Homo sapiens: one gene and its partners. The protein of the gene in region 2 purifies or fractionates together with the protein of the main gene of each other region. This does not show direct contact. Each region holds a gene or a part of one and is shown on either strand. Other genes may lie near its edges.

Region 1 (3,500 bases), on a different chromosome or scaffold from region 2:
CACCTGGAATCCAAGCACTTAGGAAGGCCAAGGCAGGAGGATCACTTGAGGTCAGGAGTTCAAGACCAGCCTGGCCAACATGGTGAAACCCTGTCTCTACTAAAAATACAAAAATAAGCCAGGTGTTGTGGTGGGCTCCTGTAATCCCGTAATCTACTCGGGAGGCTGAGGTGGGAAAATCGCTTGAACCCAGGAGGCAGAGGTTGCATGAACTGAGATCATGCACTCCAGCCTAGGCAACGGAGCGAGACTGTCTAAAACAAAGACTAGGTGGAGAGTCCTGCCAGGAAAAGGCCTTCAGCCTCCAACTGCTCTGCTCACTCGAAGCTGGAAGATGCAGCTCTAGAGACGCATCAGGACCAAGGCACGACTCCCCACTTGGAGAAATCAACGGGGAAAGAGACGGAGGCAAAGGAGAACCATCTCACTGGGAGAGGCGACGCTGTTTGACACATCGTCCCCGTACCTCCCAAAGCCACTGCCCTCCCACACCTGGGCAACAGTGGCCCCAACCCCAGGCCCAGCCCTCCTGCAGGAAGGAAGAGGACTGAATGGAGGGCGTGGCAGGCTGAAAGGACGTGGCCTCCTCAAACCCCTTGGTAAACGGCCCCTGGGGCCACCTGGCAGGGAGGGGCTGGCACACCAGGAAGTAGCCTCCTCCTGGGAGTTCAGCCAGAGCCCAGGTCCCGTCCCCCAGTGGCCTCCAGAGCCACCTTTTCAGAAAAAGTACATCCCGCCCACCCTGTTCCCCCCGCCTCCTCCCTGAGCCTCCTGCTGGCCTCTCACCTAGAAGCAGGGGGTAGTCCTCGGCCTCCAGCCAGGGGGTGCAGACCTGGATGTGCTGGAAGTGCTTCTGGTGGATGAGGCGGCTATAATACTCCCTCAGAGGCCCTTTGCCTTCACAGAGAAGAGCAGACACTGCCATGGACCCATCTCTGTCCCTGCCACGTGGCCCCAGGCCCAAGACACTCCCCCCTAGGAGGGATCCCTTTCCCAGAAGCTCCACCCCTCAGCAGCTCCAGTCAGGCCCCATCCGGGCCCTTCCAGAAGCAACCCAGGAGCCCTGAGACCTGCAGGGGTGTGTGCACCCTGACCCCTGACGCATAGCCTTTCACCTGCAGCCAGCTGGCCTCGGGCTGCAAACATGGCGGGGTAAGCACTGGCCTGGCACCCGACCGCCCACTGGGTGGACCCAGCCTTTTGTCTGTGTTGTGCACAGGGGACACGAGGACTCCTCCTGCCCTGGCACAGCCCCCAGAGCATATGGCGCGGGTTCCAAACCACTCCTGGGAGCCTAGAGGCCAGAGGAGGGAGGAGAGCAGGACCAGCAGCTGGCCCAGACCCGGCCTCTTCCCACACCGCTTCCGCTTTTCTCCCTCCTCACTGAGTCACCTTGAAAGGGCTCAGCAGCAGTAACTGTGGGACAGGGGCTCTTCCGTTTGAAAAATTAAGAGGCTTGGTTAAGGCACCAATGACATGGCCGGGCACAGTGATTTGTGCCTGTAATTCCAGCATATTGGGAGGCCAAGGCGGGTGGATCACCTGAGGTCAGGAGTTCAAGACCAGCCTGGCCAACATGGTGAAACCCTGTCTCTACTAAAAATACAAAAATTAGGCAGTTGTGGTGGGCACCTGTAGTCCCAGCCACTCGGGAGGCTGGGGCATGAGAATTGCTTGAATGTGGGAGGCGGAGGTTGCAGTGAGCCGAGATCGCACCACTGCACTCCAGCCTGGGCGACAGAGACTCTGTCTCAAAAAAAAAAAAAAAAGACACCAATGACGTAACAACAACAAAAAAAAGATGCTTGGAAACTACTGAAAAAGTAGAAAGCTTGGTATCTACAGATTCAAATCTGGGCTCCCTGCCCTGCCTCTGAGCCTCAGTTTCCCCCATGTCAAGCAGTATAAGACCCTATGGCAGAGCTGCAGTGAGGATTAAGGAGACAAGATCATGGGAAGCACAGGGTAAAGGCTGCGTGCCCCTCCCCCTCCGCCATCCCCCAACCAAACAGACACCCAGGGTCCCAGGCAGTACCTGTTATCACACAGACGAGAGAAGGAAGGTTGTGTCCATCAAGAGTCAGTTGTTCAAACTCTGTGTTTAGAAAAAGAAACAATTCTACATGGAATTTCTGATAGAATTTTTTTTTTTTTCTGACAGACTCTCACTCTGTCACCCAGGCTGGAATGCAATGGCGCGATCTCAGCTCACTGCAACCTCTGCCTCCTGGGTTCAAGTAATTCTCGTGCATCAGCCTCCCAAGTAGCTGGGATGACAGGCGCCCACCACCATACCTAGCTAATTTTTGTATTTTTAGTAGAGACAGGTTTCGCCCTGTTGGCCAGGTTGGTCTCGAACTCCTGACCTCAGATGATCTGCCTGCCTCGGCCTCCCAGAGTTCTAGGATTACAGGTTTGAGCCACCATGCCCATTCAGAAAAAAATTTTTAAATAAACAATAGCCAGAGTCACCTGGTCAGGTGGAGAAAGAGCACTGCTCTGGCGGGGAGGCCACCAGCCTGTGTGAGATACTCTCCTGGAGGGGGCATTTCAGCCTGAGGGCCTGGTCACTCAATGACCCAACTGGGGATTCAGGGCGGCCCACTTCCACCACCCCCGCTGTCCCCAGGCTGCCCCACCCAGTGGCCTGGGACAGGAACATGCTGCAGGCCAGGCAAGCAGCTTACAGCTCAGTGGCCCCCGACAAGCCCAGAGCTCCTCACCGCAGCCACACACCTACTTTCTAAAGCTGCCAGCAGGATGGAGAAGTCTTCGTCCTCTATGAGAAGAGAATTGAATGTCAGGGGCCTGTTTCTAGACACCCCTCTTCCAGCTCACAGGCCCTCCCGTTCTCATTGAGACCGTGGCAGGGTGGGAGCATGCAGGACTGGCAGGGGTGAGGAGAACACAGGTTGGCCAGGTGCCCGTCACACCAACCCCAAGTGCCCCAGGGGTCCTGCAGACCTGTCCAGCTCGTGCTGCTGACCAGCAGGGCTGGCCGCTCACGGAGACGCGTCACCAGCCCGCTCCCAGCATCCCGCTCCGTGAAGGCCGACCGCTCCGTGACTGGGTCCTCAGGTTCTGAGCTGAAGGAGCAGAAAAAAAGCCTGTGAGAGGCCATAGAGCAGGCCCGGGACCCAGGAGAGGCATCTCCTGCCGTGGCGAGGCCTGCAGGCTCCCAGAGGTTGGGGTGCCCAGCCACATCAGCAGCACCAGGCCACCCCTGCCATCTGAGGCCTGGGCTTGCTTTCTCTAATATTGTTGCTGGGTGCTAAGGTTACAACAGCAAACAAGACTGACTCATTCCTTTTCTCCACGGGACTTACTGTCTTATCATCCCCTGGACTCAAGATGAGGGTGCAGGGACGCCCTCCCACACCACCCCAGCTTACCCAGGGCACACCTCAGGGTGCGTAGACCTGCACAAAGGTCCCCTCCTTAGCCCCATGAGACACCCCAGGGGACACACAGGTCCACAGATCCTGCCACAGGCCTGGGAA
Region 2 (3,500 bases):
CAAAGCACTTAGAACAGTGTCTGGCCTATAATAAGCACTCCATAAGTACTGGCTGTAAAAACGACAATAAAGCCAACATCACTCAAGCCTAATAAATATCACTTTCATGCTAGTCATTTCCAAGTCTACCTCCTTAGTTTGAACTCTGTCTTGAGTTCCACATCTAGATTTCCAGTTGCTGCTAGATATGTCATTTAAAAACATAATTATTCAGTAAATATTTCTGAGTACCTACTATTGGGGTTCAAAGAAGTCCAATAAATAACAGCCTCTTCCCCAGCTTAGCTCTGAACCAATTAAAGAGAAGGACAAAAAAATAAGGCAACTGGAAGATCAAAATATCACCTTTAGTGCTGAAAATATGTTAATAGAGAATGAGGCTTTGTAGTTAGGCAAGTGGGCTACAGCCGAGACTCCCCACTGTCAGACAGAACCAGACTGGTGCAAGTCTCCTGCAGGAGCAGATTCTACCCCTGAACAACTGACGGCCTGCAGGAGCACAGCAGAATGTACACGGGCTTCCTGAGAGTTAGCAAAAACAAAAAGAAAAAGGAGGAGCTGAGCTACTTATGTCCAGCTGCTCCTAATATACTCATCAATCAGATAAATTAATTCCTTGTTCTCTCAGGAAGAGTGAAAGAGGGAGGAAGAGAGAGGCTAAAAAGATGACACTGGTGGGGATCCCTTCTCATAAAAGGAAATATATGGAGTAAGGGTGTAGTGTTCTCCCCAAAACCTATCACATGCTGGCTATTGTGCTAAGCACTGGGCATCTCTACCTGGGTACACTATGGGCATTTCAAACTCGACATCTCTAAAACCCTTATCTACTCCCCACACATATTGCTCCTATGTTTTGGGGTGGGTTTTTTTTTTTTTTCTGGTAGCATCACCAACCTCCTAAGTATCCTGGGTAGAAATATCAAACCCACTTTGACTTGTGATTTCTCTTGACTTTCACATTTGCATCACCAAGGACTGTACATTATTTTGTTTATGCAACTTTTGATTCTTCCCCCTTTTCTTTCCCATTGCCCCTGCTCCAGTTAATACTCTCATAATTTCTCCCCCAGACCATTACTGTAAGCTCCTGACTTCAGGTCTTCCCATTTTATCCAAACCATTTTTTTTCTTCTTCAAAACCCAGCCGGAACTCTGCCTTATCTATGGATCCACTTCAGTCATAATTAACAACTCTTTCCCATAGGTACTAAATCTACACTGTGATTAACTTCTCTTTTGATACTTATGCTATTCATTTCAGTATCTCAGGGGGCTTAAAAAAGTACTCTGAACATACTTGGCACACAATAGATATTTGTTAAATGAATGACCTAAATTAGCAGTATAGGCAGAGAACACAATATGTAAATCCCATGGCCCTACTTGTTTAAAAACATGCATGGAGCACCTACTTTGTCTACAACAATAAGAAATTCTGCTATTTTCTTAATTTTGAGCTACCAAAAGTTGTATTTCATCCTAGCCTGACACTTCGAACACTTGTTTTGATGTATCCAACAAACATGTAAAGAAGACAGATCTGTTAATTGAATAAAAGGTGTGCTCAATGTCTATGTCTTGTTCAGTTGTGGCCCTTGCTACTAGAAGACATTATTTACACAGCTTGGAGCTTTTTACTGGGAACTGGACTGAGATACTGTTGTCAGCACCCATTGTTTTAAATGACCAATACTTCAGTCCCTCCTTCTCTTCTGGGAAGGCCTTTCATCAGATACTGCCTCATTGGCCTAGGTATGGGCAGCTGACCCAAGTGGAGTCAAAGTCCTTCTTGGGAATGTAGAATGAGACTGATGAATTGAGGTTCAGTCTCACCACTCTCTTGAGTAAGAGATTTTTAAATATAGGAATGCTTGGCAATCACGTCTTGCCATATGGACTAAAACAAGAGAGTAAAGAGAGAATTAAGTAGAAATGAGAGAAAAAGAATCTCAATGGGATTTAAGTTCCTGGTTCCAGTTGATCCTGAAGTCAACTGAACTTCCTGTCTTTGGTTCCACAACATTCTAGTACACTTCCTACACTTCCCTTTCAGACTAGATTTATTTATATTGGTTTTCTGTTACAGGCAACTAATAATCCTAACCAGGATAGTTGCCAATTTGTTCCTCAAGATGGTGCAAGAGCTCTCGCTCTCATATGTAATTTTTTAGTTAGATACTTTTTAAAAATTGCAGTAAAAACAACAAAATTTACCATCTTAAGCATTTTTAAGTGTACAGTTCAGTAGTGTTAAGTATATCCACGTTGTTATAAAACAAATCATTAGAACTTTTTCATTTTGCAAATCTGAAACTCTATACTCATTAAACAAAAACCTTTCTCCTTCAACTCTTCCACCCTGCCCTCTGCTAACCACCATTCTACTTTCTGTTTCTGTGCATTTGACTGCTTTAGATGCTTTGTTTAAATCATATAGTATTTGTCTTTTTGTGACTGGCTTATTTCACATAGATAATGTCCTGAAAGTTCATTCATGTCATAGCATATGATAGGATTTCCTTCCTTTTTGAGCCTGAATGGTATTCTATTGTATGTGTATACCATATTTTGTTTATCTACTCATCTACTAATGGACATTTTGGGTTGATTCTATCTCTTGACTTTGGTGAATAGTGCTACTGTGACCATGGGTGTTCAAATATCTCATTCAGACTCTGAATTCTTTTGAAGGCATACCCAGAAGCAGGACTGTTAGATCATATGATAGTGTAAGTGTGAGCCACCATGCCCAACCTGAGTGTTACAGTTCTTTTTTTTTTTTTTTGGAGAGTGTTACAATTCTTAAAGATGGTGTGTCCGGAGTTTGTTCCTTCAGATGTTCAGATATGGTGCATCTGGAGTTGTTTGTTCCTCCCAGTGGGTTTGTGGTCTCACTGACTTCAGGAATGAAGCTGCAGACCTTCGCAGTGAGAGTCACAGCTCTTAAAGCTAGTGTGGACCCAAAGAGTGAGCAGCAGCAAGATTTATTGTGAACAGCAAAACACCAAACCCTGCACATCACAGACAGCAGCCCTACCGGGTTGCTGCTGCTGGCTCCAGTGGCCAGCTTTTATTCCCTTATTTGGCCCCGCCCACTTCCTGCCTATTGGTCCATTTTACAGAGCGCTGATTGGTCCATTTTACAGAGTGCTGATTGGTTCATTTTTACAGAGTGCTGATTGGTGCATTTACAATCCTTTAGCTAGACAGAGTGCTGATTGGTGCATTTGCAATCCTCTAGCTAGACAGAAAAGTTCTCCAAGTCCCCACTCGACCCACGAAGTCCGGCTGGCTCCATATCTCAGTAGTTCTTTTTTTTAATTGTTTTGATGACACTTTATACTATTTTCTATAGAAGTTGCACCATTTTACAGTCCCACCAACAGTGCATGAGGGTTCCAATTTTTCCGCATCCTCACCAACATGTTATTTTCTGTTTTTGCCTTATTTTGTTTTTAGAGTAGCCACCCTAATGGGCATTAGGTGATATCTCATTG
Region 3 (3,500 bases), on a different chromosome or scaffold from region 2:
CATCTGCCATCAATGGGAAGATGAGTTACCAAAACCACCAGGCCCACTGTGGCATCCCATCACGTTCCTGCCCTACTGTACGTCTACAGGGCAGTCCACAGGTCCCTCTTAGATGTAAGGATGGTGGTCTCAGAGGGCCAGGCCACCTGCTGGAGGCCCGGGCCCACAGCTGTTCTTGGTACCCTGGCACTTCTTCTCCTGGCGCAGGCTGCTGAGCAGAGGGGCACAGCCCCTGTGGCTGCCATGTTGAGAACAGATGGGAAAGCTGGGCAACTAAAGCCTGCATCATGGCCCCAATGAGCAGCGATCACTTTGAGGGACATTCTGCATTTCTGACTCCTCCATTTCTTACACCTCAGGTTTCTACTGATAGCCAGGACCACTCCTGCCTGTCCCTCCCCATCCTGGTCTGTCCCAGATGATGTCGTTCCGTGACTCACAAGGACCGGGCCCACGGCGATCCACCACAAAAGCCACTGTCACTGGGATGGCAATGGCTTGGTTGGTCACGGGGCTGGAGAAGGTCAGGGTAGTGGACAGAGGCCCTTGGCTGCCAGCCGCGGGGTCCAAGACGCCGACCGTGTATGTGATGAAGCTGGGCCACCCAAAAGACTTCTCCTTTGCGAATGCCAGCACGGCCGGGGACCCGGATTTCACCTGGAAGAGACATCAGAGCTGGGGGTGCACATTCTGCAGAGTGGGGGGACCACTGAGCGGGGCCTCAGGACCCCGAGGCGGGAGGGCTGCTCTGCATGGCCATCTCTGGAAGCACCCCCGCTTCAGCCTGACATGCTGGGCTTCCCTCCTGGGGCCCAAGGGTACAGGTGGGGACCCCTGCCCAGGTCACATCTCATGGGCAGGTAATGACACCTGGGCACTGCTCATGGACGGCGTGTACTCTGCAGAGTCGGGAAGCCCTGTCCATACTCAGGGTGTTTTTTGAGGGAAGGACAAATCAATATGAATGTCAGAATCAAATTCAAGCTCATTTAATTCTAATCAACTGCTGCTTACAAAAAGGCTAAACCAGGCTGGGCGCGGTTGCTCACGCCTGTAATCTCAACACTTTGGGAGGCTGAGGCGGGCAGATCATGAGGTCAGGAGATCGAGACCAGCCTGGCTAACACGGTGAGACCCTGTCTCTATTAAAAAAACAAAAAATTAGCCGGATGTGGTGGCAGGCGCCTGTAGTCCCAGCTACTCAGGAGGCAAGGGTGGGAGAATGGCATGAACCCGGGAGGTGGAGATTGCAGTGAGCCAAGATAGTGCCACTGCACTCCAACCTGGGCGACAGAGCGAGACTCCGTCTCAAAAAAAAAAAAAAAAAAACTTTGGGAGGCCAAAGTGGGCAGATCACAAGGTCAGGAGATCGAGACCATCCTGGCTAACATGGTGAAACCCCGTCTCTACTAAAAAAAAATTAGCCAGGTGTGGTGGCAGGCACCTATAGTCCCAGCTACTTGGGAGGCTGAGGTAGGAGAATGGCATGAACCTGGGAGGTAGAACTTGCAGTGAGCCCAGATTGCGCCACTGCACTCCAGCCTGGGCGACAGAGCAAGACTCCATCTCAAAAAAAAAAAAAAAGGCTAAACCAACATGAAGTATCACCAAGCACCAGCTCTCCAAGGTAGCAGCCCGAGCTCTGCTCACGCCGCCAGCGGGCTGGCCCTCCTCCCTCATCAGCGATGCTGAGCATTCCCTGCCTCTGCAGAACATGCGATCACGCTGGCTGCAGCAAGGCAGGAGGAGCAGGCGGAAATGCCGAGGAACTCCTTGGTTCTCTCACCCCCGAACTCTTCCCAGCCTGCCAGGCTCTGGGCCTGAGGGATCATTCACCCACCAATCCCACCCCGTGACTTAGTCATGGGGGAAGTGAGGCCTGGAGAGAGGGGACTTGTCCCAGCAGGGATTAGGGCTTTCCTCCCTGCTCTGTGGCAGATGCTCCTGCACTGAATTCTGCGATGCCACGCACCACACGCTCACTGGCACCTTTTCTGGGGTTCTCACTGCTGCCCCCACAAGCTTAACTTGTAGCTGGGGAAGACCAGCAGCGGTCAGAACAATTAATACAATCACGCAGCCTGAGAGACAGCAACAGTGCTATGGAAAAAGAAAAGAGTACTTCAATTTAAAAATTCTAATTGTAAAAATAAATTTTAAAGAGAGCTGGCCCAGGACATCCACACCACATTCCCTCTTCCTCCAGGGCCTTCCTGATGCCCCTGACTCCGGCCTGGCCTGAGGCATGCAGATGCCACTCACCTCCAAGTTCTCCAGAACCTCCGGGGCACCAAAGACCCTGATCTCGGAACTGGTGTAGTGGTTGCTCAAAAGGATTTCAGCCTGGTCGGCGAAGAGACCTGGGCTGAAGGGCACCTCGGCCCCCACCTGCTCTGTGGAGAAGTGGCTGCTGGAGAGGGAGGCACTGACCACCAGAGCTGTCTTCTTCATGCTCAGGTGCTTCCGCTGCTTGTCCGTCAGCCTGTGCATTGTGATTGAGCAGAAGTACTGGCCTGCGAAGACAAGGGTGTATTGTCTTGTCCCCTCTCCTGCCCGTGCACTGATGTCATTTCTTCTCCCTGCTTCTCTAACCAGGGGATTCCTATGCATCCTCCAAAGCCCAGGTGAGAAGTCACCTCCTCCAGGAGTCCTCCTGGGAATCCCCTATAAAGGCCTTGGCCAAGCTAGGATACCCTCTGTGACCAGCAGTCCTCCCAAGTCCCCCTGGCGTCAATCCCCAGGCTGGGCTCCTGACAATCTCTGCCCTCTGGACAGACGGCCATGGTGAGCTGGGCACGTGGAAGCCGCAAGATGCCCAGAAGACAGAGACTGTCTCCAAGTCCCTTTCACTTTCAAATCCTCGCAATTACCGAGAGCAGTGTCAAACTGTGGCTCCACGGTGAACACATCTTGAGATGGGAAATCAAAGACGGCCGGCTTGAACTGGGACTGGCAGCTGATGAGGGTCTCTGGGTGCAAGGCCTGGATGACTTCCCTCTGGGTGGGGGTGCACTCGCCTAGAGAGGGGAGAGACGAGAGGGTGTGGGCCAGGCCCGATGGCCACCACACCAAATTCCACCAGGCCTGCACAGGCTGGCTGGGCTGCAAATGCCACCTGCCCCTGCATGTCTTCCAGCAGGGCCCCAGGGCGGCTCAAAGCTTTGAGATGCAGCCAGGATTGGTAAAGCCAAGGACATATCATATGGAAGAGGATGCCATCGGCATCACAGGGAGCTTCAAGTCAGAATTTCAGCATTTGTTCCAGACCTTGCATCCAGGGGCACGGCAGACGGGCTAGGCCCACTAATGCCTGTCTTCTGTCCCTGTCAGCAGGGGAAACGGCAATTTACTTCTGCACATTCAGAGGGCACTAGTTCTCCACTAACATCTGAGCAGCATTTAGGCAACGGCACAGTGCTGTCCACTTGCGCTGAGGAAGGAGCAGAGGCTGCCATGATGGAACAGAGCTGCCTCGTTAATCAGGACGAGAAGGGCGGTGC

The links. Proteins that work in one complex are often made in the same cells at the same time.
Region 1: the proteins of VTCN1 (region 2) and ALG1 purify together in Homo sapiens (affinity purification with mass spectrometry, with the first as the bait; one large-scale study listed by BioGRID). This does not show direct contact.
Region 3: the proteins of VTCN1 (region 2) and NUP210 purify together in Homo sapiens (affinity purification with mass spectrometry, with the first as the bait; one large-scale study listed by BioGRID). This does not show direct contact.

The regions. Positions count from the first base shown.
Region 1 is NC_000016.10:5,078,343-5,081,842, reverse strand, and holds part of ALG1 (chitobiosyldiphosphodolichol beta-mannosyltransferase), read right to left. Parts: intron 3,087-3,500; coding exon 2,965-3,086; intron 2,780-2,964; coding exon 2,741-2,779; exon of another isoform or gene 2,737-2,740; intron 2,096-2,736; coding exon 2,036-2,095; intron 898-2,035; coding exon 787-897; intron 1-786. UniProt on the Homo sapiens protein: Mannosyltransferase that operates in the biosynthetic pathway of dolichol-linked oligosaccharides, the glycan precursors employed in protein asparagine (N)-glycosylation.
Region 2 is NC_000001.11:117,148,428-117,151,927, forward strand, and holds part of VTCN1 (V-set domain-containing T-cell activation inhibitor 1 isoform 1 precursor), read right to left. Parts: intron 1-3,500. UniProt on the Homo sapiens protein: Negatively regulates T-cell-mediated immune response by inhibiting T-cell activation, proliferation, cytokine production and development of cytotoxicity.
Region 3 is NC_000003.12:13,319,323-13,322,822, forward strand, and holds part of NUP210 (nuclear pore membrane glycoprotein 210 precursor), read right to left. Parts: intron 3,018-3,500; coding exon 2,871-3,017; intron 2,514-2,870; coding exon 2,263-2,513; intron 658-2,262; coding exon 441-657; intron 4-440; coding exon 1-3. UniProt on the Homo sapiens protein: Nucleoporin essential for nuclear pore assembly and fusion, nuclear pore spacing, as well as structural integrity.